Homo sapiens: one gene and its partners. The protein of the gene in region 3 interacts with the protein of the main gene of each other region in a biochemical or structural test. Each region holds a gene or a part of one and is shown on either strand. Other genes may lie near its edges.

Region 1 (6,877 bases), on a different chromosome or scaffold from region 3:
AGCCTCTGTTCTTAGGGCCTCCAGCTCCTATCCTGCTGTGGGGCAGGGACTAGGGAAGGCGGGAAACCTCTTATATGGCCACGGAGAGAAGTGGACATCAGGCTTCCTCTGATGTCTGAAGATGAATTCCCCCACACCAGCTTGACTTCTGCTTCCCTCCCCGAAATCCAAGGATGCTGGGCCATTTGCTCTGACAGAGCAAACCCTGGAAGAGCCAGGCATTCGTCTCCTCTCCTTAGAAGCTGAGAAGGGCAGCAAGCAGCTAATTTGGAGGGACAAAGGGATGGTAGGCCTGCTCTGCCAGCCCAGTAGGGGAGCTCGGCCACCAGGCAGGCCGCCCCCACCCCCACCCCAGAAAGCCCGCTCTCTCCCATGTCGGTTGAATCTGCTCCGATCTGGGGAGCTGGGGCCGCAGTTTACGGCAGCTCTCCCGACCGGGCTTTTGGAAAGCTTAACATTTTCAAACCTATTCTTCCACCCCAGTGACAGATTTATCCCAGGAAAATTATGTCTCCTCCAGCTTTGAAGGGAAGTCAGCTACGTCGATGCAGAAAAAATGCAGCGAGACATACTCGATCCCCCAAACTGGCTCAAGAAGAGGAGAAAGTATTCAGGAAATGTTAAAAAAGGTGAAAGTAAGAAGAGTTTTAATCGCTCTGCCAGACGCAGGGGTCTCTCCAGAGATTCAGAGAGAACAATCTTGAACCTCTTTTTTAACATTTACAGACTTGCAACTCCTTTCAAACTCCACATCTGAAAAAAAGCTCGTTCTTTTTCTGTTTTATATCATTCTTCATTTTTCTTCTTAGCTCTTAAAATGCCTCACCTTTTTATTACATTTTAATAGAGTCTTCCCCTCTCCTTTCATGCTTGTTTAACGTGGTCATTATTTAAAGGTTTTTAAACTCACAATAATCGCTCTCTAAAAACAACACCAGCCGCCCAGAGGGCTTGCTTTTCTCTTGGTACATCCAGGACTCTGGAAATTGGCCCCGTTTCAAGGCAGGAATATTGAATGTTTTAGAAATCAATCAGTCCTCAGCCTCTCTGCCGGCAGTAGCTCTCCGCACTTGCCACCCCACAGGGAGCCGGGAGCCCTGCCCCAGCCGCCTGGGTTCCCCAGGGAATGGAGCAGGGAGAGCCCCCTTCCAAGCCCAGTTTCCACGTGTAAATTGACCCATCCGATTAAAGTATTTAAGGGTTCCCAGCAACCTCCTTTTCCAACTGGGAGAGTTGAGGGGATTTCTCTCCCTTCTCTTTCCCACTCTCCTTTTGTGGGCCCTGGCGACATATCCTCTTTCAAGCGCTTGCCTTAAACCTAGGCCCCCTCCCCCTGAACCCCCTGCCTCCACCTGCAGCTGGGGAGGAGTGTATGAAGGGGGGAGGTGTAAAGGGAGATTCCTAGATTCATTCATTTGCTGGGCAGGGAAGGGGGCACCTGTGGCCAAGTACTCCCCGAGGCCCCTTCCCTAGCCCTCTCTTCCCCAGCTGACCCTCAAGACACCTTTCTGCCTTAACTCCTTCCCTTCTGAGCTGGGGACCCTGCAGGCCCCCGGCCAGTGCAGTTGGGACTGGTGGTCCAGGCGCCGCGCATCCCACAAGCTACCTTCAGCGCGCCTTACCGAAGGGGTCGCCGTCCTCTGCCATGGCGTTGATGCGCTTGTTGGCCAGGACCTGCACGTGCTTCCCGCTGGTGCGGCTGTAGAGTTGGTAGGTCCGGATGAGGCGGCGGCTGAGCTGATCCGTCACCAGGCTCTGCTCCCTCACATGCTGTGTAAAATTAGGTGAGGACTGAACAGTTACCTTTAGGAAATTGAAAAATACACAATACACCATTATAATGCTACTCCGCCCAGGGGCCCGAGTGGCCCCATCACCCTGCGTCCCCCTCACTGCCCCAAGCCGCCAGCAGGTGCTGGGGGTTCCCCCAACATGCCAGCCCAGGCCACCATCCCCCACCCACGCAAGTCGGGCAGACCCAGCCCAGGATGAACGAGCCCCAGGGAGAAGCTGGACCCACCTGTTGGGAGACACCCTGGGGCTCCCGGCCAGCCCGGAACAGGGAAGCGAGCTCCCTGCCCAGCGCAGGGCCCCTGCCCGGGCCTTCCTAGAGGAGCAGGGCGCTTTTAAGTAGGGAGGCAGCCCTCCCCGACCCCTGACATTTATAAAGACAAATTTACGGAGCAAATGTTGAGAGTGCAGGGAACCTGGGCACCCGATCATTGGGCCAAATCGGCCACAAGCCTCCCCCGAGGGGCGCTGAGAGGGTCTCTGCTGCAGTCACCCGGCTTCCCCTGGCATCGAACATCCATCCCCTGGCCGCGGCTGCCCCCTTCCTCGGCGGCTGGGTGTTCCCTATGCCCCCAGCCGGCGAGGATGCATGGGGGACAGTGCTGGGCTCCGAGACCTTCGTTTCTATCCTGGCCACTCACTCGCTGTGTGACCTCAGGAGGGGTGCTACCTCTCTGTGCCTCAGCTCCCTCCTCGGGGTGGCTCGGGGCTGGGTTTCTAAGGTGCCCTCAGCCCTCCCGCGCCGGCCGCAGAGTCAGTCCCGGTGCCCCCGACCGGCGCTGCCCACCCGGGTCTCACACCGGCGCGCCCGGCCCCCGCCTCCGCGCACCCCTCCTCACCTGGGCTTGGAGGCAGAGGACCAGCAAGTGCAACAGCCTGTGGGAGACAAAAGCGGGCGGGAGAGAGAGGCGCGGGTGAGGCGAGGGGCGCGGGGGGCGGGTGGCGGGGCAGGGCGGCGCGGTACTCACAGGCAGCTCAGCGCGGAGCGGGGGCTGCCCATGGCGCGCGGCCCCGGGGCACCGAGAGCCCGGCGGGTCACGCCGTCCCGCGGGCCGCCGCGGGAGGACGCGCTGAGCAGGGCGCGAGCGGAGAGGGTGCGGGTGCGGGAGGCCGGCGGCGATCACGACGCGGCTCCGCGGGTCCCGTGGAACGTCGTGCTCGCCGCGCCGCACCGAATCGCTGTGCGCCGCTGCCGGAGCCGGTGGCCGCTGGCTGCTCGGGAGCCGGAGCGGGCGGGAGGGTCACGGGCTGGCGGGGTGGGTGGGGAGGTGGGAGGGCGGGGAGGGGTGGGGGCGGGGGGCGCCGCACCGGGCGCGAGGGGGGAGCGCGGGGCGGGCGGCGGGAGCCCGCAGCCCCCGGCTGGGAACTGGGGCCTGGATGCAGCCCGGGGCGGGGGCGGGGCGGCCGGGGAGGGGCGGCCGACGGGTTCGGGATTGAGGGTCTGGGCTAGGGGAGGGGTCTGGGGACCCGCGGGAGGGGCGGGGGCGGCCGGTCTGGGCGCCTCCCCCTATCCCCGGCCTGTCCCCTCGCGCGCTCCCCGGTCCCGGACGCGCGGGGATGGGGGCGCCTAGGGCTGCAAACTCTGCGGGCCGGGAGACCCCGAGCCTGGGCTTCCCCGACCGCCTGGAGCGCCCGAGTCTGGCGGGTCTGGGTCTCCGCCTCCGGGCCCAGCCGCTTCCGCCGCCGGCTACGCAGTGGTCTCCGAGCCACCTACTGTGTGTCCCGCCGGGCCCCTGGGAGCGGCCGCTAACCATGCAGCGAATGGCTGCGCACCCGGCCCTCGCGCAGTGCGTGCCGGTGCCACCCGGACCCCGCTCCCCTGTTTCGGCCGCGTGCCCCGTCCTGTCGGTCTCTCCAGTCTCCTTCACTCTCCCGAGGAGGCCCTGGGAGCCAGAAATGCCTCCCCCTCCCCCCATCCCATTATCACTATCACCCCTTCCCCTGTGCCCCTCACCACACACACACACACACACACACACACACACACACACACTAGCCTGAAGCTTGAGGAGCACCCCGAGCCACCTGTGTGGAAGAGAGAGTCCGGAGGTCCCTGGCAGGACCCACTGTCCCCGTACCTCAGCAGGCAGCAGGGGCAAAAAAACTCTCAGTAGCTTTTACTGGGGGAAGGGACTTCCATCCAGGCCACCCAGCCCTTTCCCCCTCAAAGCCCCACTCGTTTTTCATTTCACAGGTATTTACACACCTACTGTATTCTAGGCAGGGGCTGGTCAGCTGGGCTTGGGGCATAGGAGAAGGTAGGCACTTGTCTAAGCCTTTCCTAGCCCCCCACCTTGTGGCTTCCCCCCTGAGGTTTCTGGAAACCCTGAGCCCCCATGCTGCTTCTGTGGGAGCAGCCTGGGTGGACAGAGATGCTCTGGGACAGGTGCCTTGTGAGGAGCAGGTGATGCCCTACCAGACTGCTGTCTTCACTTACAACCTCCCCTTCCCCAGTGACCCTCCATTCCCCTGGGGGTAGGGCTGGAGGGTTTGGTGTGGTCCCAGGAAGCCATTAGGCCAAAATTAGCGGCAGCCCTAGTCCAGCAGCACAGCCAGGCCCTGCCTCCCTCCCTGCTCTGTGTCCCACCTTTCCCTGTGCCCCATCTTTCCAACTCCCAGCCATAAATGCAAACACTGAGCAATGGAGAGATGGGAAAACAGTTAGAGGGTGCGTTCCAAGATCTTATCCCTCCTCAGAGAAGTAGACTTCCAGAGCACACTTGCCATCCTCCTCCAGGAGTCTGTTCAGTGGGCTCTTGCCCACACAGACCTTGCCCACAAGGACCATGTCTTATGAGCTCAGAAATCACAGCTCGTGGCACAAGGCTGGGCAGAGCTGTTCTGCAATTAAGAGTTCGTTGAATGAATGAATGAATGAATGATGGGGGAAGTGGCTGAGCCTGTAGACTTCAGCCTATTTGCAACTTCCCCAGGAAGACCTGCCTTCACCTCCTCCCAACAGATTATCACCAGGAACACCACCAGTTAGTGAGCACTTGTATCTGCCACAGGCTTGGCAGGCACTGTCTCCTCTAAAGCCCATGGGGAGGTGGGTCCATCAGGCGGAGACAAGTCAGGTGGACACAAGTGGCCACAGCCCAGGCCAGCCCTTGCCTTCCCTGTGTTCTGTGTAAGGCCTGAGTCACAATTCATTGAGTGTCTGTTTCCCTCTCTGCACTGCTTCAAGTGGGCAAAGGTTATGTCTGTTTGCTTGTGGTCTTACCCTCATCCTTGTACACAGTAGGCCCTCAAGCATGTTTAGTTGCGTATGTCGATGAACAAATGATTGAATGGAGAGATGGAGAGCAGGCACTTCCTGTAAGAAATGGGCTTTCTCCCACCATGGACTCTCTGAACATCAGTGAGATAAGCAGAGCAGGGAGTAGGCCCCAGGCAGGGGTGAGGGTGACCCGCCCATCCAACAGTGTTTGCATGGTCCTGGGGTCACAGCCAGAGCCACTCTGGGTACCTGCCCCTCCCTGGAATGGGGGTAGGGGCAGAGCCCCTGGCTGAGACCAGCATTCAGCTCCAGCTGTGGAACCCCCAGAAGATTCTGAGGGCCCTGGGTTGACCCTCAATGGTCTTCAGCCACCCTTCTTCCTCTGCCCCAGAGAAGATGGGCGTCCTGGGATCTGAAGGGTCCGAGGTCAAGTTTCAGTCCTGTCCCAGCCTCTGCCAGGGAGCCTGTGCTGGACCAGGATTCCTTTACATTTGGATTTGGAGACCCTCCTGAGAAGCGGACCCTCACCTAGTTCGTTGAAATTCTCATCTCCCCAAAAGTCCGTTTCTCTGGGGGAGAGGAGCAGATGGGGACACCCCGGGAGCAAGCACCTGGCTCTGCCCTGGCACGCCCCGTGACTGACAGATGCAAATGTCCCGCCGGGCCCCCGCAGGCCGCTCCCTCCCTTGCTGGCTCGCCCGCCTCCCGGCCAGCTCCCTCCCTCCTTTATCTTATCAAAGCCCGGTAATTACAATTGCTATTTTGTTTCCTCGAATCTGCAATCAGAGCTCCCTGGCCCAGATGAGGGAGCGCCTGTCAACCTGATCGCTGAGTGACAGCCCGGCCACCTTTCCTGGCCGCCCCCACACTCCGCAAACACAAACACACACACGCACAGACACAAACTCCCTCGCCTGCAAACACAAACACACACTCCTCGCCAACACAAACGGCCCATCTCCGCAGACACGCCCTCGCCTGCACCCAGACACACTACTTCAGCCTATTTCCAAACGCACCCCTCGATCCCAGCCCATCCCCCGGCCCCTCCAATCCACACCCGCCGGAGACCGCAGCTCGCTCCGACGCGCGCTTCCTGCGCCGGGCGTTCAAAGCGCCGCGGACTCACTGCCGACCGTTCAAATGCAAATCGCCGAGACTACGTTAAGCACTTCGGCCACTGTCTGGGAGTCGTCTCCCTCGGCCCCCAAATAGAAGCCTGCCCTTCCTCCAGCAGTCGGCAAACCCCGGCGTATGCCTTCATCCCCCAGGGGTCTGAGGCCACAGTGAGCCGGCAGCGCTCCTACTGTGCGCTGAAGGGCAAAGAAGAGGGCTCGAGGAGAGGCTGGGGCGAGGAGAGAGGAATAAACCTTGCCCAGCTGTGTCCGCGGGGCGCCCCAACCGGCCGAGAAACTCTTGGGCCGAGAGGCTGATGTGGATTGGGCCCCCACTGCGGGCAGGAGCGTGCTCGGCGCAGGCCCGCGCCCACCGGGAGACCTACCCGGAAAACCGGCGAGAAATGCAAGGAGCGATCAGTGGCATCGCGGGGGGTGGGTGGGGTAAATATTGGGGCGGAGCCGCGCAGGGGGTAGATGGGTCAGCTAGGGAGGCCTCCCAGGAGAGAGGACTCAGCCAGTCTCCCGCTCCTCCTGCCAAGCACGTGCCGAGGACTTTGGAGGCTGGGGCCAAGAAGAGGAAGGGAAAGAGGAGTGAGGGCCACAGCCAGACTTCCCCACTCCAACTCAAGTCGTTCGAATGAATGAATGAACGTATGCACGCATGCATGCAAGCCTCAGTGGCATTCCCCCGCCTTCCGCCCAAGATTCGGCCGCCCAGAGCAGTGGCGGGACTCGGAGGCCCCGGCCC
Region 2 (7,021 bases), on a different chromosome or scaffold from region 3:
TGAACGATCTGGAATGGTTAAGTCACATGTTTACTTGATAATTTTGCAGTCTTCTGCCAGTTAAACTTGCAAGAGTCAAGGAATGGATAGGACTGGGTTTCTAACAAGATACCATCGGTTAAGAACAAAGAGCTACTTTACAAAAGCTAACATTGAAATCAAGTAGTATATATAATATCTCTCACTAAGCAAATTAAGGTGCGCTTCCACAAAGTTGACTGTGAGCACAGTTATAGTGAGCCATATATTTTTGTTGATTTTCATTTGAAGACTGAGAATGTGTGTTTTTAAACAGAATTTCACTGAATGTAATAAAGGCTATATAAGAATGTGGAAAACCTTTCACAACTCTAACCAAACCCTAGAAAGATTATTTTCTTTCAATAAATACTAGCATATTTAGAAATATTAATAACTGATAATTTGTTTTAAATCCAACAGAGTTATTAAAAACAGGGAATATAATCCAGACATTGTAGACGTGTGGGCTATGATTTATGTAAGTTTTTGAGTTACTATTCCCTCTATAAAGGTCTTAAAGATCTGCTAACCTAGCTAAGCTTCCATTAGTCTTTAACTGTTTTCTTAAGTTAATGCTTTATGAACGCCCTCTTTCTTTCCCTAAATTGTTGAACCTGATAACTTCCTTCCAGATACCTTTATCTAGGATTTTTTTTTTAAAAATGGAATACCAGAAAATAGCAGGACATATTCTTGTTTAGTAAAGGAGTTTCCTCTAAGTCTTACAATGATAATTGATTAAACTAAGAATATGTTGATTTAACTGGTGACTGGTTTCTTGAGTTTGATAGTTCAAGAATTAAGATAGTAATTGCAAAGAAAAAAAAATCCCACATCAAAACTGAAAAAAAAATGATGTGGGTGTGCTATTTGTAAGGGATGTGGGTGTTTACTGAAGGCAGCAATAAGAAGGAGAAATTAGTCTGTAGCACCCCCAAATTCCAAGTTTTGAACAGTGCTTCTGTTTGGAATCCATTTATCATTAATTGAATTCCTCAGATAGGTAATATGTAATTTAATGGAAGTAACCTATATCTGTATTTTTCTGTCACAAGGAACAATGTCTTAATTGCCTTTCAAAGTAAACAGCACCATTTTGTCACTCAAAAGCTAATCTTTAGACATGTTTTTGTTCACTACAGAACCCAGTTTCTCAAATTATAGAGAGCATTTTGTAAAATTTACACTGCTTAAATAATGGACTCTGGAATTTCTGATGCAACCACTTAATTTTTCAAGGTGATGAAGCCTCTGTTAAGTATGAGTTTGATAAATTTCTCATAATTTTGTCTTTAGTATTAAAGAACTGTGGCTGCTCTCCAGACTGAAAGTGGCTTCAATACTACTGGCAGGCTTCCAAAGACATTTTACAGACAGTCCTTTCTGACTTAGTGTAAAATAAGTGATTGAGTACCTGTTGCTAAAGAACGGGTTGCACTTTTAGGATCTTGAGCTTGTGATGGAGAGCAGAACCAATTGGCAGGCCAGGGAGAGAAGGGATCGCACCTGCCCCCGTCAGTCTGCGGGAAGAATCATAGACTAGGAGGAGACAAAGACATCTTATAAAGGCTCTCCTGCACCAGTTCAGCATTGCTTTTTTGAGCACACACATGTTTTCTGGTGTCAAGATAAATATTTTAATGTAAATTCCATAATTGATCATTTTTCAGTTTAGCAGTTATAACATATAGACTAAGGAATGTCTGGAACTTTAAAAGAAATGGCAGCACATTACAGGGAGCATTTTACTGATCTTAAAACTGGGTTACAAATTACACAAAATTGAAAACATTAATCACGTGGCTGTATAAAATGAAGTCATTTGAGCTTTTAATAAAAGTCACTAAGGTGAAAATTCCTTTGGTTAAAAAGAAAGAATTCTAAGTAAAATTCGAAGAAGAAAATTTTTTACTTTTCATAATATACTCAGTGACTCTGAGCAATGCTGTAAGAGATGGTCTTTTAGGAAGGAGGAAATGTCCAAGGACCTCTGAATCCTAATGATTAGGTTTCTATGAGCTCCAGAGTTTTCACTATTCGAAAACATTGTAGTGAAACTATTTTTAACAATACAGGTAGATATGCTTACTACTTACTGTAGGGTAATAGAATACAGAAGTCAATCTGAAGGTCATAGTCCTGTTACCTCTAGCCTCTTTTGTTATTAACTCTTGGGGCCAAACCTTAAAACCATTTGCTGATGTAAAGGGATGTAAATTATTTGGCGTTGGCAGTGGTGCCATTATGCCTTTTCATTTCATGTTGTTGAAATACTGTCTCTCAGCTGCAGATGCTCATTAGGAGCATTGCTTTTTGATGTTGGCCTGGGTGCCAAATGGCGGCCTTTCAGGCAGTTTCAATACGTTACATTTAAAACATGCTCAGGCCATGTCTACATGCAGCCACTGAGTTAACGGATTTTCAGTTGGGTAGACACACTTTTCCTTTCCTGCAGTATTAATTTAGCTTCTAAGCAATTGGAGACTCCAAGAGGACTGCACTAAAAGGATAAGCTATTTGGTGTATCTTGTGTATGTGTGCTTTTGAAAAACAGATTGTAATAAACCCATTATGCATTCTATTTTCTTCCATATATACGTAACACTTTCTTGAATTCAAAGATTGCATGGCTGATATGATTTAAAAGGCTTCTATGTAACCTATATTCCACTTCGTACTCTGAGGACTTTTTGATTTGTAGCTGCAAACATGGGTAACAGCTGATCTTCCGTTTTCTATTTGGCGTCATTCCTGAGATAAGGTGTAAAATGCCTTTTGTTGTACATTAATCACCTCCTTTGGTATCTGATTACCTCATCATTTAAGAATATTCATAGTAATGTCACACTGTTTGAGATTGTGTTACATTAGGTATTCTCTTAAATAGTTGATCAAATATGTTTATTGAGTGCCAGCTTTTTATCATCTGCTCTGTGGGGAATTAAAAGGAGTGAGATGACATAATTTCTGCTGTCAGGGAACCTTGGGAGTAGTAGAGACTAGAGATTAAGAGAGGTAGATAACCCTGGGTTGAAACCCCAGACATATCCCTTACTAGCTGTCTGATCTCAGACAAATGATTTAACTCCTTCAAGTTTCAGTTTCCTCTTCCGTGAGATCGGAAAATTAGTAATGCCTACTTGTTAGAGTTATAAATATTTTAGAGATCTTAGGACTTCAGTGCATGTAGGCAGTGTTCATTAGTGAGCAAGAAGGATATATATGGATCTGGAAAAAATAATTATTTAGACATAGTGCCCTCTTTTTAGAAGGATTTTAAAAAGGGTATTATGATACACAGGACTCCTTCAGAGATTAGAACTAGGCTTAAAAAATTGGTCACTAAATATGCCTGCAATTCCATGTTGGTTGTGAATACTTCAGAGAAAAAAATGGCCTGATTATAAGGTTGAAAACCATCAGCACAAGGGTGGATCTAGGTCTTGTTGGGCCTGAAGGGTATATAATTTTGAGGGCCTTCTTTAAGGAAAATACAAAACTCTTCTTGCTTTTGCGAAGGTTAGTTGAATACATGACCATGAGAACACATTGCCAAGTCCCAGTCCCCCAGAGCCTTGGAAGGAGTCCATGCAGTTGAGGAACCCTGAAAACTTCTGGTCCTTCTTTAGCAACTATCCTTTGGTCCACTTGGACCCACTTGCTTGGGAATATAAACTAATCGTTCCAGTTTATTAAACGTGGACCTCATAGAGGTTGTATGTGTAGTGCTTTGAAGATTAGAATCATATATTGAAGTCAAAGTCATTTTTAGAAAGAAGTATTTCACTTTTATTTGACAGAAGATCTTAAATGAGATCTGAGCTGATTTGATATTTGTCACTGCCGATATTCTTGTAAATTACTAACTAGAAGAAAATAAAGCAATTGCTATTATTATTCAAATGAGTGAGATGTAAGTGCCCGATTGGCAGGGCAAGAAGTAGTTTTGCCAGCTAAAGGCATATGATATTGGAGAGGAGACTGAAGATTTTGTTTTAGCTATCTAAAAGGAGATAAACTGGATATATAATACCAATAATTATATCTTAATCATCACGTTATGGTTTACAAAACACTTTGATATGTGCTTAATCTTCACACTAATTATTTAGTAAATATTGACTGAGTACGTGCTCTGTGCTGGGTGCTGGGAATACAGCGGTGAACTAAACGTACATCGTCCCTGTTTTCATGGAGTTTCCAGTCTAGTAGTACAGAGAAATATAGACATTAAAAAGTAACACATACATTTATAATTACATATTCAGATTCAAGTCTAAGAAAAACCCAGGATGAGAGATTATCAAGGGGGATTGGGTGGTTGGGGAGGTGAAGATGTAACATTTAAACAACTGTGAAATAGGAAGAACAGATGGTATTCTCATTTTAGGGCATGGTTGATTGACTACTTAATTCAACAAACATTGAATTACAACAAACATTCCTGAATTCCTTAACTCAACAAACCTTTGTGAAGTCTGGAGAAGGTCAGATAGCTTCAGGAATCGTGTGGAGTTTCACGTTATGAAGTCCAGGAAAATAATACATCTGCCTTTAGAGCTTACCACCTGGAAGGAGGGGAGACAGACATACTATACTTATAAACAGAGGCATGAAGTAAATGCTGTTGGGCCACAAGAAAGGAAGCAATTAATTCTGCCTGGGACTCCCTCGAGCTGGGCTTGGGGAAGAATTGCTTTCATTAGATGGAGCAGGAAGAAGGGGTGATCTGGGCAGAGCAGACACCCTGAGCAGTGGTTGAGATCTGAATCTGGTTGTACATGGGGAACAGTGTGAGAGTAGTGGGGAGGAGTAGCCAGAGATAAGGAGAAAAAAAAATTCTGCAAGTCCAGATTGTAAGTCTTTAAATGGAAACTGAGACTGAGAAAGGTTAAATGACTTAGGCAGGTGGAGCTGGGACTGCAACTTACGTTCGTTGTCTGAATTTTATCCTTTTCTAAGGCAAGGATAATTTGAATATATATAGCATCTGAATACATGCCAAGCAAACAGGAATTCCTGTGGCTTCTGGACTGAGTCTGACCAAAGTGTGGGAGGAGTGATGGGGAGGAAGGGCACTATTCAGAGCTGTGGTCTGAAGGAACCGTCCTGCCATTCTGCAAGTTGCTGTCGTTCTGAGCCTGTTTCCCCATCTGTAAAATGGGGTTAATGACACTTCCCTTGTGGGTCTTGGTGAGCTGAAATAAAACCACATATGTAAAGCAGATATAAAGTATGTACTCATTATGTGCTTTAAAAAAGTTCCCTGTGGTCAGATATTTTATTTGAAATGTTTGTTTAAAAAGGTGTACAGTACTCTGAATATGATGTGCAAAGTTCTGTGCTAGAGGCTTAGAGGAAAAACAAAATAAATTTAAGGTTACTATACTGACCCTTTCAGGTGGTTGGAGAGGAAGCACTTTTGCTTAGTTCAAGCTGCGAAGAAATCATGAAAGATATTATATCAGTAAGTGCCCGAATGAAGCAGGCAGGTAAAAACTGGGAAAATTGAGAGGCAAAAATCATGTCTATTAGTTTTAATGTCTGGGGGAAAAAAGAGGTATAGAAAAGCTAGAACTGACCTGGACCTCCACAGATATGAAGGTAAATAGGGAGAGAGGGCCTGTTTTCCTATAGGATGAGGTGGATCTGGCCAAAGAATTGCTATTGAAGAGCAGTTAAAGGCTGGAACTTGGGGCAAGCCATATTTAAATCTTAAATGTCAGACAAAGGAGAGGAGTCCTGCTGGAGATGACAGAGAAATTAAAAATATATATATATGTTTAAGAGGATAGTTAACAATAGCAACTGAGCGTGTGCTGCCTCAGGCTCTATGTTTGGGACTAGCTGGGAATTAGCAGAGAGTTAAGTAGGAACAAATTCATATAGTTCATTGCAGCACTAAAAGGGAATTCTGGTTTTATATAGCATCCACTATGGTGGTCGGACAAAATGAAGGGCTAACGAAGGGATTTTTATTGCTGTATGAAACATCAACTAGATGATACTAGGAGAAGGGAGGCTAGTGAAGTCCAATGAAAGTATCTTGCTTAATCAGTAGGAACACCTGTATGCGGGGAAAGGACACCATTGGGCTTAGATTCGAAAGATCTGGGTTCAAGAAGTTGCTCTGCTACTAACTAGCCAAGTGAATTTATATCAGTTATGTAACCTCTTTGAACTGTAACTTCCGCAATCGAATATAAGAACAAAATAAGATAATATATGGGAAATGCATTGTAAATGAAATATTTCACAGCTATACATTTTATTAGTAGACATGTTGCTGAAAAATAAAAATCAAATTTTATGTACTGCTAGAGGTGCTTGTTTGATTAAAGAAACCCAACTATGATATATTTTCTAAAGCAGGAAATTTTGGAAAGATACACTTGTAATGATTTTGGATAAGGATAAAGGGGGCATAGCTGAGATGTTAGAAATAACAAAGCAACCAAGGGTAGATGATAGATCCCAAATGGTAGATGACTGAGAGGGAGAAAGATCTTTGAAGTTACAAACTCGAGGAAATTAAATAATCATGGTACTGTAAATATGATGGAGAAATTAAGAGACAGGTTAGGTTTTAGAAAAAGTTTGGGCCTCCTAATACCTTAACTTGTAGGTCAGTATTTTTCAAACTATGGATGATGAAATCTGTTTAACGGGCTTCCATATATATTAAGAAAGAAGTAAGAGAGGAAGGAAAAAGGGGAGGAAGGAGGGAGAGAAGGAGGGAAGAAGTGGAAAAAGAGAGTGTGTTTTATATAAGGGTAAGTACTGCTTTGAGTACTTCAATTTCTCTCTCTCTCTCTCTCTGTCTCTGTCTCTCTCTCTCTCTCTCTGTGTAATATGTAACTTGGTTGTAATGGAAAATACATTCTTTTGGCTCAGGTCAAAAGAGTTTGGAAGCTACTGTCATCGAAGGAAGAATGTGGGATCAAAGAGAGGGTGAAGCAGTCTGTAGTGGAGTAAGAGTACGTCAGAAGGTATAGAATAG
Region 3 (7,021 bases):
CTTTTGAAGTCCACTTGTTCTGTACTTGTAAAAGGGAAAGAAGGCCGGGCGCAGTGGCTCACGCCTGTAATCCCAGCACTTTAGATCACTTGAGGTCAGGAGTTTGAGACCAGCCCGGCCAACATGGTGAAACCCCATCTCTACTAAAAATACAAAAATTAGCTGTGCATAGTGGTTGGCACCTGTAGTCCCAGCTACTCAGGAGGCTGAGGCAAGCTAACTGCTTGAACCCAGAAGGCAGAGGTTGCAGTGAGCTGAGATCACGCCACTGCACTCCAGCCTGGGTGACAGAGTGAGTGAGACTCTGCGTTAAAAAAAAAAAAAAAAAAAAAAACTAAAAGGGAAAGGTAATAAATCTCACTTAACATCTCCCTTCGCTCCCTGGGCCTGCCTGAAAGTTACACGGGAGCAACGTGCGTGGCCACATCTCAGCTTTGCCCAACTGACTGGTGTGTCGTTGGTTTGTTCCAGCATTCGGGGATTAATAGCTCGGATGCGGAGGTGCTGACCCTGTTCAATGTGACAGAGGCCCAGAGCGGGGAGTATGTGTGTAAGGTTTCCAATTATATTGGTGAAGCTAACCAGTCTGCGTGGCTCACTGTCACCAGACCTGTGGCAAAAGGTAATGGGGAGATGGATGGGACCCTGTGCTGGGGATTTGATGTAGGCCCCAAGCTGCTGGGGCAGGCGGGGAAGCCAGTACTGGACTGTCCTTGCCACCCTACTGTATTTCTAGTGCCCAGAGCCATGGAAAAATACCCGGCCTGGGAGGCTGGTTTGGTTTGGTATTGTGTTGGTGTCTGTGGGTTCCCTCTCTGCCTTCTGTGTGTTCCTTGGCTTTGTGTGGATCCATGTGAGGACTCACGGGGACACGGTTTTGCTGTGTTACAAATGGTACTTCAGACTGAAGTTGTGAGTGAGTGGTGATTAAGAGAAGGGGCCATAGGCCAGGCACAGTGGCTCACGCCTGTCATCCCAGCACTTTGGGAGGCTGAGGTGGGAGGATCGCTTGAAGCCAGGAGTTTGAGACCAGCCTGGGCAACATAGCAAGACCCCATCTCTACAAATTAAATAAATTAGCCAAGTATGGTGGCGTGTGCCTGTAGTCCCAGCTAGTCTGAAGGCTGAGGCAGGAGGATTGCCTGAGCTTAGGTCGAGGCTGCAGTGAGCTATGTTTATGCCACTGCACCCCAGCCTGGGTTGACAGAATGGTACCCCATCTCTTAAAAAAGAGAGAGAAGGGGTTAGGCATTCCCTTGCATACTCGCATCTGCTGGCTGTGTATGCACATGTGCGTGTGTGTATGCGTGTGCATGTGTGTGTCTGCAGCCCCCGCCATCCCTCCTGTGTTCACCTTCTGGCTATCTTTACCTGAAACCAAACAGCCCCTGCCCGCCGGCCCCATTTCTCCATGCCGCTCACCGCCCGCATGCTCGGATGGGCCAGTGGCTGCCAGCATCTGGTGAAGGGTCGTAACCAGCCATCGTCTTCTCAGGTCTGCCGGAGTTCTTCCCTCAGGGTCTCACCCTCTTCCTCTAACAGGTTTTGCTGCCTGGTGGTTTTCGTTTGTTCCTTGTTGCAAAGAAGATGTCAGGGAGCATTTCTTCCTCTAGTCCCCCTTCTTTCTGTCTCCTTCCCTTGCTCTGCGTCTCTTAGAGGTCTCATGTCCTGTGCTTGTCCATTTTGCTTCCGTTGTCTCTTCTAGACTGCTGGAGTTAATACCACCGACAAAGAGATGGAGGTGCTTCACTTAAGAAATGTCTCCTTTGAGGACGCAGGGGAGTATACGTGCTTGGCGGGTAACTCTATCGGACTCTCCCATCACTCTGCATGGTTGACCGTTCTGGAAGGTACACACTGTAACTTCTCCTCTCGATGTCCTGCCCTCGCCACGGGCACGGGGGGAGCATGCATTTCCAGGCTTGGGGAGACACAGAGGCAGGAGAGCTGGAAGAATGGGCTCCTGCCTGCCTGGTGCCACATCCTGCCCCAGCTTTGAGGGCTGAATCCTCTCAGCTCAGAGAAGAGCTTCCCTAGTTTTGCAGGCGCACGGAGGCCTCCCACCCGTACACCTGCCTCTGCTCTCCCCCTGGCCATTGCAATGCATGCCCGGGATCTGGGTTTACCCTGCAGCCCGACTCCTCCAGGGCAGGCTCCTTCCGTCCTTGGGTCCAGCAGCCTCCCCCCTCCGCTGGGTACTGAGCATCTGAAAAGTCTCAGATAGGGCCCTACACCTCTTCTCCCTTCTCAAGTGCTCAGCCCAGGGGTGGGGCTTGCTGCTTGCAAAGAGCAGCCCACCCTCCTGTACTGCCATCCTATTGCCTTTGAAGAAGGAGGTCAGCCTGGACAGGTGAACTGAGTTGCCTTCAGAAAGGCCTGTCTCAGGCAGCCGCAGCAGGCTTCACGATGTCCATGTATCCTGTTTGCCTGCTGCCGTCTCTCCTCTCCCAAGAGGGGAGGTCTGCGTGTTGAGCCAGGGAGGAAGGAGCCTGCAGCCTGCTCAGGGTGGTGGCTGGTGACTGCGGGGCCAGGGCTTGCTGCTGTCTCTCGGAATGTCCTGCATGTGGGTCTGGCTGTTCCTGCTGGCACTGCCCTCTTCTCTCTCCCCTCCTTTCCCACTCTGCCCTGCTTGCCCGTCAGGGTCTCCGGATGCCCCTGCTGGAGGCAGAGAAGCGTTCTGTTTTTATCATCGTCCCTGTCTTGGTCCTGTCCGTGCTCCCCATGTGCTCCCAATCAGTTGTCTTCGTTCCTCAACATCAGGGAAAGAAAAAACAGCAACACTTCTCCCTGTCATCAGCTCTGCTGTCTCCTTGTCAGGCCTTGGGACGTTCTCTGGGCTCAGTCTAGGGTCGTGCCTCATGCCTCATGCCTCTCTGGGAAGGTTCCCAGGGGCGCCGCCTCCATGGTTGGCTGGTGGGTTTTAAAGGGGAAGGTTGGGAGGAGGCCTGTGGAAGGAGGAGGGCCGTCCACACCCGTGGGGCAAAGCGTGTTCCATGAAACCAGTGCTGTGCGTGCTGGGATGAAAGCCTCCCAGCCTCTCGTGCTGAAGGGAAAGGTGGACCGAACTGGCTTAGCTGCTGTGGCAATGGGGTGGGGGGTGAGTCCTAATCAGAAGGTGGGAGAAGAGAATAACAAAATGGAACTCCGCCCCCTGCCGCCACATTTCCTTAAGTTTTAGGAGTTGGGGCCTATGAGTAGAATTTGAAAGAACTACCAAAAAAGCTTATTTTTGGAAATTAAGTCAGCTTTGCCTGTGGTTTGGCTAGGAATAAATATTTACCTGTGTGCCCCTACAGAGATGACACAGACCCAAAGTGGGACATTGAGCAAGGCACAGGCTGGTTCCCCTCCTGTCCTCTGTCCTCATTCTGTGAGTGCCACCATCACCAGGTACTGTGGCCTGCAGAAATAAACGAGGCACCAACCCTGCCCTCAGGGACCCCGTGTCTTCTTAGGGACAGAGGACTCAGAAACATCTGTGTCCCCGCATGTTAAGTGCATGCACACAGTGCTGAGGCTTTGCAGAGAAGGGCCATGGCTCCCTGAGGAGACCAAGAAAGGCACATAGAAGTGACTTCTCAGCTGGCCCTTGCAGGATCCCTGGGTGCCTGTACCTCTCCAGTCCAGCTGAGCAAGGAGGCTCAGGAATTAATGAAGATGGGGCTTGTGTAGCACGATGGTTCTAGGCCATCCCTTTTCCATGGCTCAAGTCCATTGAAGGCAGCCTCCAAAATCAGGGGGTTGCCTGATCCTCCTAGTGCCACAATCCCAGTCCTAGCTAGAACTTGCCATGGTTCTTCTCCCTAAAAGTTCCCAGGGGACAGGAGACAGGTGTTGCTTTTCTAATGGAGCGGGACCTCGCATGGACGGGGCCCTCCAAGCCTGCTAACACCCTGTTCGCACTGACTCAGCCCTGGAAGAGAGGCCGGCAGTGATGACCTCGCCCCTGTACCTGGAGATCATCATCTATTGCACAGGGGCCTTCCTCATCTCCTGCATGGTGGGGTCGGTCATCGTCTACAAGATGAAGAGTGGTACCAAGAAGAGTGACTTCCACAGCCAGATGGCTGTGCACAAGCTGGCCAAGAGCATCCCTCTGCGCAGACAGGTAACAGAAAGTAGATGGGGGATTTGCACACTCAGCACCACCTCTCTCTCTGGGCCTCTAATGCCCTGCCCTCTCCATTGTCCCTAATTTATAGCTTTGGGCCTTATTTTCTGGCTTCTGGGCAAGGCACAGTGGAATATCATGAACTAAGTGCTCTAGAGTCTGTTTCAAGCTAGTGTAGCCCGTGAATTTCCTGCACCCTCCATATCACACTGCAAGTCCTCCGGACTCCTGGGACATGGATTGGGAGGAAGTCCTATTTGGACAGAATGTGCAGCCAATAGCATGAATTTGAACTGTCCCCAAGGGCTGCTTAGAAGTGCAGAGATGCAGGGTAGAGAAGAGAACTGTTTGTATTAGTCCATTTTCACACTGCTGAGAAAGACATACCCAAGACCGGGCAATTTACAAAAGAAAGAGGTTTAATGGACTCACAGTTCCACGTGGCTGGGGAGGCCTCACAATTGCAGAAGGCAAAAGGCACGTCTCACATGGCGGCAGACGAGAAGAGAGCTTGTACAGGGAAACTCCCCTTTATAAAATCATCAGATCTCGTGAGATTTATTCACTATCACAAGAACAGCACAGGGAAGACCTGCCCCCATGAGTCAATGACCTCCTACCAGGTCCCTCCCATAACACGTGGGAATTCAAGATGAGATTTGGGTGGGGACACAGCCAAACCATCTCAGCCATACCATACCCTTGTCCCCTGTGTGCCCACCCTTCCCCACGGGAGGAAATGGTACAGATGGCACAGGTGTGTGCAAGAATGACCGTTCCCTCAGAAGCCTGTGCTCATTCTGGAAGGTGCTTTGGGAGTTAGGAATCCATAAGCTAAGGCAAAGTATTTGCAAAGAGTCAGGAGAACAGAGTTGTTACTGCAATGATCAGTTATAAAATGTCAAGCTGGAAGAGGTGCATTTGGTCTGCTTATTTTAAAGGTGAGTGAAGTCCAGAAAGGCCAGCTTGTGGCAGAAATAGGTCAGTCCTAGAAGTTGGGCCTCCTGGCCTACCATGGTCTTTGGACCACTCTGTGTTGAGGAAAGAACATCAGATACACAGACATGTGCCTCTGCCATTGTTGGGAAGCCCTGACTAAGAATGGGAAGGAGTCACCCCGTCCCCCCTCCTTGCTCTAGGGTGACCCCACTCTTCCTTGCAGGTGTCTGCTGACTCCAGTGCATCCATGAACTCTGGGGTTCTTCTGGTTCGGCCATCACGGCTCTCCTCCAGTGGGACTCCCATGCTAGCAGGGGTCTCTGAGTATGAGCTTCCCGAAGACCCTCGCTGGGAGCTGCCTCGGGACAGGTAATAATACTTTGACTCCCAACTTTTTGAAGGCATTCCTTGCTTGCTATTCTAGTGGTGGAAGGTGTGTATACTAACACCTTCTGGGCGGTGAAGGTTCATGAAATGCCTGCAGAAACATTCATTCCACTTTCTGCTCGCAGTTGGGTGAAATACAGAGAGGTGGAGATGGGGTGCCTCTCAAGGTTTGAACTTCACCAGCCCCAACTTATGCCACTCTCTGTTTCCCCCGAAAGACTGGTCTTAGGCAAACCCCTGGGAGAGGGCTGCTTTGGGCAGGTGGTGTTGGCAGAGGCTATCGGGCTGGACAAGGACAAACCCAACCGTGTGACCAAAGTGGCTGTGAAGATGTTGAAGTGTAAGTGATGCTTCTGTCCTTGCAAAGAAAATCTTGTCCCATTCCAAGCAAACAGCAGGCCTCGGGCCCAGCAGAACAGCTTCTCTGGTGCCTTTGCTGCCCACACCTGCTCCGCTGCCTGCTTGGGGTTACCTGGGAGTGGAGGGGGTGTTCTGCACCTTGAGATTGTTCTATGACGTCACTCTGTTCCTTGGCGTCAACCTGGGCTGTGGTCAGGTGTTTATCCTGGATCCATCGCTTGCAGGCTTTCCTCACCACATCCCTGCCCACTCACTACCACCTATTGCAACAACGGCTCCCATGAGAGGGAAGAGAAAACAAGTTTGGATGAAGTGGGGAGGAGAGAATCAAGTCCCAGGGAAAAGCAGCCCCTCGACACATACCCCACTCCCTTAGCCTTTATCCTGCCCTCCTCCCTTCCCAAGTAAATGAGTCTCAACGTGTTCTTTAAAGCGGACGCAACAGAGAAAGACTTGTCAGACCTGATCTCAGAAATGGAGATGATGAAGATGATCGGGAAGCATAAGAATATCATCAACCTGCTGGGGGCCTGCACGCAGGATGGTGGGTGCCGGCCAGACTGGCTTTCCCTGCCCAGCGGGGAGAAGATCTGAGCTGGGGTATCAGTCCCAAGGCCTCTCTCAGCCACAGCTAGGGAAGGGGGTTAAGAGAGGCTGCTTTGGCAGAGGTTTAAAATGTGTTATCTCGGGATCTGGGCTCCGCTCATTGGTGTTCATTCAGGAATACAGATACCTAGATTCACACACGTGGTGTGTTAACAGAGGCAGCTGAGTAATTATGGTCTAAGAGCGCTCAGGCTGGGTGCAGTGGCTCATGCCTGTAATCCCAGCAATTTGGGAGGCCGAGGCAGGAAGATCACTTGAGATCAGGAGTTCGAGACCAGTCTGGTCAAAATGGTGAAACCCCATCTCTACTAAAAAATACAAAAGTTAGCCAGGCATGGTCACGCATGCCTATAATCCCAGCTACTCAGGAGGCTGACGCATAAGACTTGCTTGAACCCGGGAGGTGGAGGTTGCAGTGAGCCAAGATCACGCCATTGTACTCCAGCTTGGGAGATACTCCCGCTGTCTCAAAAATAAAATAAATAAATAGGCCAGGCACAGTGGCTCACGCCTGTAATCCCAGCACCTTGGGAGGGTGAGGCGGGTGGATCACTTGAGGTCAGGAGTTGGAGACCAGCCTGGCCAACAGGTGAAACCCCATCTCTACTAAAAATACAA
Region 4 (7,910 bases), on a different chromosome or scaffold from region 3:
ACAGAAAGCGAAGATGGTGGGTGCCGGGGCTGGGGGAGCCGAATGGGGAGCAAGTGTTTAATGGGCAGGGAGTTTCAGTTTGGGAAGATGAAAACCATCTGGAGATGGATGGTGGTGATGGTTGCACTAGAATGTGAGTGTCCTTAATGCCACTTACCCGTGCACTTAACAATGGCTAAAATGAGAGAGGCTGTGAGTGTGTGGGGACAGAGGGTGTAAGGGAACTCTCTGTACCTTCCTCTCCATTTTGCTGTGAACTTAAAACTGCTCTGAAAAAAGTCTTTTAAAAAATAGTTAACATCAGGCCAGACACGGTGGCTCATGCCTGTAATCCTAGCACTTTGGGAGGCCGAGGTGGGTGGATCACGAGGTCAGGAGACCGAGACCATCCTGGCTAACACGGTAAAACCCCATCTCTACTAAAAATACAAAAAAAAAAAAAAAATTAGCCGGGCGTGGTGGCGGGCGCTTGTAGTCCCAGCTACTCAGGAGGCTGAGGCAGGAGAATGGCGTGAACCTGGGAGGCGGAGCTTGCAGTGAGCCACGATCGCGCCACTGCACTCCAGCCTGGGTGACAGAGCAAGACTCCACCTCAAAAAAAAAATAGGTTAACATCAATTTTATGTTATGTATCATGTATATTTTACCACCTTTTTTTTTCTTTTTTGAGACGGAGACTCGCTCTGTAGCGCCCAGGCTGGAGTGCACTGGCGCGATCTCAGCTCACTGCAACCTCCACCTCCCAGGTTCAAGCGATTCTCCTGCCTCAGCCTCCTGAGTAGCTGGGATTACAGGCATGCACCACTACGCCCAGCTAATTTTGTATTTTTAGTAGAAATGGGGTTTCACAATGTTGGCCAGGCTGGTCTCGAACTCCTGACCTCAAGTGATCTGCCTGCCTCGGCCTCCCAAAGTGCTGGGATTACAGGGGTGAGCCACCGCACCCAATTAACACCATTTTTTAAAAAGCTAAAAAAAAAAATTGGCTCAATCTCCCCTTATTCTGAAGGTCCTAAAGAAAAACATGCCACTTGCTTTGGGGTGCTTCGGCTCAGTGTAGACCAGTCTATCCCACCGGCCTTATCATCCTCCTGGACTTTTGCAGAAAGACATCATTGTGAGGGTGTCTTGCTGAAGCCAAGAAAGGGAAGTTGAATTGAGAAAGCAGTTGAGCTATTTACAAAGTTTACACAGCCTGGGCCCTTGCCCCGGGCTGAGCTCAGTCATTTTGCCCTGAGGACTATAAGTGGACTATTATGCAGCACTTTCTTTTTTATTATTATTACTATTAAGCCAAGTAAGTTCTTAACAGCTAACACCTGAGCTGGTGGCTCTGAGAAGCCTCTTCACTCCTTCACGGGAGACGGGACCATTCACATGAAGATCCTACATTGTTGTTTTTTTTTTTTTGGAGGTCGAAAAAGGTCACTGTTAGGAGGCTTTCTGGGCCTTTGCTCCTCTCCCTCAATTTATTACCCCTCCAGTGGCTGATGACGTACAGGGAGACTTCCACCCGATAATGACATGGCTTTGTTTATTTCACAAATTCCCAGCATTTACTGTTAATCAGACCCAGTTTGAACCACCCCCAAGGGGCTTGCAGTCTAAACAGCTCACTTTGCTCAGCCTCTTCCTGAGGTCAGGCACTGTCTTGCTAAGGCCGACATCAGCTCATGCCCATTTTACAGATGGGGAAACTGAGAATGCTAAGAAGTGAAATAGCGTAAGGTTATACAACTAACAGGGAGACAGCCTAAACTTGAACCCAACCGGAAGCCCAACATGGCCCCAAGCCTTCCTCGAACCCCAGGACTTGGCAAAGCGGGCGTCCTGGGGTAAAGCATGGCAGAAGGGCTTTGGGTCCAAGCTAAGTGAGGGTCCTGTTTCTAGATCACCTGGCCAGGTGCAGTGGCTCATGCCTGTAATCCCAGCACTTTGGGAGGCTGAGGCGGGAGGATTGCTTGAGGTCAAAAGTTTGAGTCCAGCCCGGGCAATACAGCGAGACCTCGTCTCTACTAAAAAAGAAAACAAAAAATTAGCTGAGTGTGTAGTCCCAGCTACTCAGGAGACTGAGGCTGGAGGATTGCTTAAGCCTGGAAGTTTGAGGCTGTAGAGCTATGATAGAGCCACTGCACTTTAGCCTGGGCAATGGAGCAAGATACTATCTCAAAAAAAAAAAAAAAATTATATATAGGTCCCCTTGTCTCTCTGCTGAGAAGTAACCAGATCTGGAAAAGATTTAGTCACCTTGGTCCAACTATTTCTTTCACATAAAGAAAAAAAAAGGCAATGCAGACCTTCCCATAGGGGCAGCTCTGCCTGAGGCCTTTGCAGGTACCTCTGTTTGTCTGCCCCGGGGCACAGTGGCAGATTGGGCAGGGCAGCTTGCAGTGAGGATTGCTGATGGATGAGCTCCTAGTGTACCTAGCCAGCCATTTACTCACAAACAGCTATTGAGCACCTACTATGTGCCCAGCACTGGAGGTACAACTGGCAACAACACAAATCCGGGCTTGCTCCATGGAGATGACAATCTAAATGCGGTGGAGGGTCAGCTAACAAGTGCAGAAGGTTCTCTTAAGAGCTCAAAGAAGCTCCAACCAGAAGGACTGGGCAGGGGATCCAGAAGGCATCCCCGAGTGGCTACTCCAATGGAGTGGCTTCTCCATTCAGGCAAACCTGAATGGGATAAGTCATTGGCAGGAAGATCTGGGGCCGGGGGTCATCCAGTGGGAAGGGGAGAGATGACGCGGTCAGCATGGCGGGAACACAGGAGCAGAAAGGAAGCAGGTGGGAAGCCAGGTCAAGGGCCAGGGGCACGGAAAGGGGTCAGATGCAGATAAGTGAGTGCTTCCTGGTGCATCCTTCATCCGCAATTCTTCCTTACCTGTGCTTTTGTTGCCTCCATTGCACAGCTGAGGAGGCCAGGGCCTGCGGAGGTTGAGAGTGTGCTCAGGGAGCACCCGGAGCAAAGTGGAAGCCAGATTCCAGATCAGTTCTGCTGGGAATTCCCAGCTCCCAAAAGCCCTGCTGGCTGTCAGTCCCCAGTCACCACAAGCACCTATCCTGTGTGGGTGGGCCTGCAGTTCTGGGAGATATATCAGCTGCCTGCAGCGTCCTTTGCTGAACTCACAGCAAATAGGAGAGACAGGGAGGGGTCCTTGGGAAGCCCTAAATTGAGCTTGCTGTGGGAGTCCTGGGAAGAAAGGAGCCTCATCCTATCAAAAGCCGGGGGAAGACATCAGAGTCCCTCTGCTCAGGTCAGCTGGCACAGGTGGGTCTCCAGGCCTGGGTCTCACTTCCCCAGAGGGTGTGTTCGGTTGGCCCCAGGCTGAGGGAGGAAAGCCCACCTCCCATGTCATTTTGCAAATGGGGAGTCAGGGACCTAGAGATGGAAAGACAACACAGCAAGTGAGGGATGGGTTCTAGGTCCCCTGCACCCTGCACCCTGCACCCTGGCCAACGATGTCTATTTGGCACCAGATCTGCAGGCTCATCTGGGGGACCCCAGGACCCAGAGGCAGCCGGGTTGCATCTCGAAGCTGTGAGCTGCAGCCCAGGAAGGTCCAGGTCTGGGTGGCGCTGCCCAAGCAGGCTGCAGGCCCAAGGAGGAACAAAGATCCTCTCAAGGGGTGCGGAGCTGAGGTTCCGGTCCTGCCAAAGCCACTTGATGACCCCCAAGTGCCCCCCTTTCTGCACCTCAGAGAAGAGCCCTCAAGCCTCCCAGGTCCCCTCCAGGGGCACGAATAAGCCCCAGCAGGGTTCTGAAGGGGTCCCAGGAATCTCCCTGTGGGGATGCGGTGGAGGTGGAGGAGGCTGCGGTGGCCTGGGGACATCTCTGGTCACAGGTGCTGGTGGTATGAGAGATGGGGTAGGCACCAAGCCCCCTGCAGCTGTGGCTAGGCGGGCCTGCAGGAAGGGCCAGGCAGGCTCCTCAGGGACCACAAAGAACAGGGGTTTTCACACCTAGGTGGGCCTGCATCTAGCTAGGACAGTCCCCATCAGGCCATAATGGGCACAGTGGGAGGTAGAACCATGAGTGAGAGAGGGGAGGCTTCCAGAGGCCTGGCCTGGGTCCCTGCTAGATTGAGGGCTCTGGCTATGGTACATGGATATTTCTGCTGTGGAATCAAAGGAGCAGGGGATGCTGAATATCCCCTCTGGCCCTATGCCCTGCTACCTGTCCTTTCACGGAAGGGTGTGTGTGTAGGGGGTGCAGGACCAGGCCTCCCTGGGTGCATCTCTGCCACCTTGCCCTTTGGCTCAGGTGGACCTCCACCAGGTATTCAGAACTCCAGCCCAGAAACGCGCCAAGCCTGTGGGGCCAAGACCTAGGGGGTGGGGGTGGCCTCCCTCCCGCCTGTAGCCAAAGGGTCCTCCCTTGCCCAGCCAGGCCCCGGTGTCGCTTACTGCTCTTATCCACCCCTCCTTCCCAGGCCGGTCCTCAAGGCCCCAGCAAAGGAACCAAGTTCCCGTGAGCCTCCGAAAGGCGAAGGGCAGGCAGCAGCCGCTGGCTTCTGCGCCCACTAGGAGCTTCGGATGCCCGAGTTAGGGCTGCGCCAAGGCGGCCGGAGCAGAGAGGGAGACGGGGACGGGGACAGGCAGGGACAAAGTGCAAGAGGCAAAACTGGCTGAAAAGCAGAAGTGTAGGAGCCGCCAAGGGGCGGGACGAACAGGTCCGTGGGCCGGGCGGAGCCAAGGGTGGGGGCCGGGGTCCCTCCAGGTGGCACTCGCGGCGCTAGTCCCCAGCCTCCTCCCTTCCCCCGGCCCTGATTGGCAGGCGGCCTGCGACCAGCCGCGAACGCCACAGCGCCCCGGGCGCCCAGGAGAACGCGAACGGCCCCCCGCGGGAGCGGGCGAGTAGGAGGGGGCGCCGGGCTATATATATAGCGGCTCGGCCTCGGGCGGGCCTGGCGCTCAGGGAGGCGCGCACTGCTCCTCAGAGTCCCAGCTCCAGCCGCGCGCTTTCCGCCCGGCTCGCCGCTCCATGCAGCCGGGGTAGAGCCCGGCGCCCGGGGGCCCCGTCGCTTGCCTCCCGCACCTCCTCGGTTGCGCACTCCTGCCCGAGGTCGGCCGTGCGCTCCCGCGGGACGCCACAGGCGCAGCTCTGCCCCCCAGCTTCCCGGGCGCACTGACCGCCTGACCGACGCACGGCCCTCGGGCCGGGATGTCGGGGCCCGGGACGGCCGCGGTAGCGCTGCTCCCGGCGGTCCTGCTGGCCTTGCTGGCGCCCTGGGCGGGCCGAGGGGGCGCCGCCGCACCCACTGCACCCAACGGCACGCTGGAGGCCGAGCTGGAGCGCCGCTGGGAGAGCCTGGTGGCGCTCTCGTTGGCGCGCCTGCCGGTGGCAGCGCAGCCCAAGGAGGCGGCCGTCCAGAGCGGCGCCGGCGACTACCTGCTGGGCATCAAGCGGCTGCGGCGGCTCTACTGCAACGTGGGCATCGGCTTCCACCTCCAGGCGCTCCCCGACGGCCGCATCGGCGGCGCGCACGCGGACACCCGCGACAGTGAGTGGCGCGGCCAGGCGCGAAGGGGCGGGGGCGGGGGGCAACGGCCGCCGGGCCAACCCGCTCAGTCACACTCTGAGACCCTCGGCGGGCACCTGCTCGGGGGCCCCGGGAACCGGGGCGGACTCGGGCTCCGGTCCCTTCTGACGCGGGGCTGGGGACGCAGACACTCTTGGCTCCGGCAGCCCAGCGCAACCCCTGAGGTCGGGCGCCGCCTCCCGCCTTCAGAAACTCGGGCTCCGAGCGCCGAATTCCAGCGCCTTCGCCCGTGGGCACAGGGCGCGCGGTGCAGCCACAGGGGGCCCGAGACACGCGCCCCGGCCTGGCCCAGGCTGGGGAACCGCTGGGGTCGGGCTCGCGTCTGAAGGTCCGGGACTGGGTGCGGCCGCCGGGGGTCCCCTACACAGGCAAGCTAATCTGAGCTAGCGCAGGCTTGGGCTCCGGAGGCCCTAGAGGGCAGCTTGGGCTCTGGAGGCCCTTGGGGGCGGCTGCGCCGGGAACCCTGGCCCTTTATCCCCAACCCCACCCCAGAAATAGGGTCCCCGGAGGCGAACAAGCCGAGGGGCGGAGTGGGCCAGGGATCACCTGCCCCGCAATGACCTGCGCCCCGCCCCCAGGCCTGCTGGAGCTCTCGCCCGTGGAGCGGGGCGTGGTGAGCATCTTCGGCGTGGCCAGCCGGTTCTTCGTGGCCATGAGCAGCAAGGGCAAGCTCTATGGCTCGGTGAGTACCGCAGGGGTCTGGCTAGGCACCTAGTTGGGAACAGCGGACATGGCTAGCAGGCTCGTGGCTTCTCCAGCCCCACCTGTGCCTGGGTCTTGGAGGGGTGGCAGGGTCACCAGGTCACGGGACCGGCAGGCCTCCCCAGACAAAGGAAGCAGCCCCAAGGCAGGAACAATGAGGTTCCTGCCATCCCTGAGTGGGCCCCTCCCAGACCGAGGAAAGGGCGCTATTGAGAGCCCTTCCCTTCTCTAGTCCAGAGGGGTAGGTCTCAGTGTTGGAACTGCGGGCTTGAGGCTGGACACGGAGGGAATGAATTCTCTGGCTGCTAGGTGCAGGGCAGGTGGTGAGAGCACCAGCTGTTGTGGGCTGGCCATGTCCCCTTCTCACCCTGTGTGGGTCTTGACACCTTAACTGCTCAGCAGAGACATCTCAGCCCAGGGTGGGGGGTGGGACAGAAGGGGGTTCTGACCCCTGGCTTCAGGCTGGGTACCTTGCCCAAGAGGTGCCCCAGCCCTGACACTGCCCTGCTTTGCTGCAGCCCTTCTTCACCGATGAGTGCACGTTCAAGGAGATTCTCCTTCCCAACAACTACAACGCCTACGAGTCCTACAAGTACCCCGGCATGTTCATCGCCCTGAGCAAGAATGGGAAGACCAAGAAGGGGAACCGAGTGTCGCCCACCATGAAGGTCACCCACTTCCTCCCCAGGCTGTGACCCTCCAGAGGACCCTTGCCTCAGCCTCGGGAAGCCCCTGGGAGGGCAGTGCCGAGGGTCACCTTGGTGCACTTTCTTCGGATGAAGAGTTTAATGCAAGAGTAGGTGTAAGATATTTAAATTAATTATTTAAATGTGTATATATTGCCACCAAATTATTTATAGTTCTGCGGGTGTGTTTTTTAATTTTCTGGGGGGAAAAAAAGACAAAACAAAAAACCAACTCTGACTTTTCTGGTGCAACAGTGGAGAATCTTACCATTGGATTTCTTTAACTTGTCAAAAGTTGTCACGAGTGTGCTGCTATTCTGTGTTTTAAAAAAAGGTGACATTGGATTCCGATGTCATCCCCTGTAGTATGGCGTGGAGCATCTCTGTCTGGAAAGGCCCGCCTGAGGCTTGGGCAGCCAGTTCAGGGAGCTCCCAGGCTTGGCTCTCGGCTAGCATCCTCAGAGGCCCACTCCCTTTGTGCCCTGTTGCTATTAATCGGGACATATCGGTTTACTTCGGGTACAGAAAGTGCGGTGTTGAAGTCCTCGCTGCCACTCTGTTTTTAGATCTGCCAAGACTGACCTTTGAACTTTCCTGTAGTCAATCTTCCTCGATCTACCAGATGGGAGAGACCCTTGGACAACTTTATAAACTCCTGTTTGCCTTTTTTGGATCAGCGACAGCCCCCATCGCTGTGACTATTGGGGAAAAGACGAAGCTCTTTCATAAATTCCATGGAGAGGAATCAATATCCCACTGGAAGGCTAGAAATGGACAAGATAGTGTATTTGCAATCACAAACAAAACCCTAGTGATGAAAAATAATTTGTGATGGCAGATGCTTCTGATGGTGTGATAGAATATGTTTTTGAAAACAAACCATCGAACCCCCCGCCCCACCCCCAAAACGGGCTTCCCTGTGTTTAGGGAGCTTTGGGCTAGAACTAGCTACGATTTTTAGGTGAAATGTCCTTGT

The links.
Region 1: the proteins of FGFR1 (region 3) and FGF8 interact in a biophysical measurement, tested with the Homo sapiens proteins (2 studies listed by BioGRID and IntAct, with this or other methods).
Region 2: the proteins of FGFR1 (region 3) and NCAM1 form a complex in vitro, tested with the Homo sapiens proteins (2 studies listed by BioGRID and IntAct).
Region 4: the proteins of FGFR1 (region 3) and FGF4 form a complex in vitro, tested with the Homo sapiens proteins (2 studies listed by BioGRID and IntAct, with this or other methods).

What each region holds. Positions count from the first base shown.
Region 1 is NC_000010.11:101,773,110-101,779,986, forward strand, and holds the start of FGF8 (fibroblast growth factor 8 isoform F precursor), read right to left. Parts: upstream 3,006-6,877; 5' UTR 2,792-3,005; coding exon 2,760-2,791; intron 2,668-2,759; coding exon 2,631-2,667; intron 2,108-2,630; coding exon 2,021-2,107; intron 1,804-2,020; coding exon 1,623-1,803; intron 1-1,622. UniProt on the Homo sapiens protein: Plays an important role in the regulation of embryonic development, cell proliferation, cell differentiation and cell migration. Required for normal brain, eye, ear and limb development during embryogenesis.
Region 2 is NC_000011.10:112,964,406-112,971,426, forward strand, and holds part of NCAM1 (neural cell adhesion molecule 1 isoform 2 precursor), read left to right. Parts: intron 1-7,021.
Region 3 is NC_000008.11:38,416,626-38,423,646, reverse strand, and holds part of FGFR1 (fibroblast growth factor receptor 1 isoform 1 precursor), read left to right. Parts: intron 1-1,705; coding exon 1,706-1,850; intron 1,851-3,911; coding exon 3,912-4,114; intron 4,115-5,273; coding exon 5,274-5,419; intron 5,420-5,655; coding exon 5,656-5,777; intron 5,778-6,230; coding exon 6,231-6,341; intron 6,342-7,021. UniProt on the Homo sapiens protein: Tyrosine-protein kinase that acts as a cell-surface receptor for fibroblast growth factors and plays an essential role in the regulation of embryonic development, cell proliferation, differentiation and migration.
Region 4 is NC_000011.10:69,772,342-69,780,251, reverse strand, and holds the start of FGF4 (fibroblast growth factor 4 precursor), read left to right. Parts: upstream 1-4,910; 5' UTR 4,911-5,167; coding exon 5,168-5,507; intron 5,508-6,124; coding exon 6,125-6,228; intron 6,229-6,766; coding exon 6,767-6,943; 3' UTR 6,944-7,910. UniProt on the Homo sapiens protein: Plays an important role in the regulation of embryonic development, cell proliferation, and cell differentiation. Required for normal limb and cardiac valve development during embryogenesis.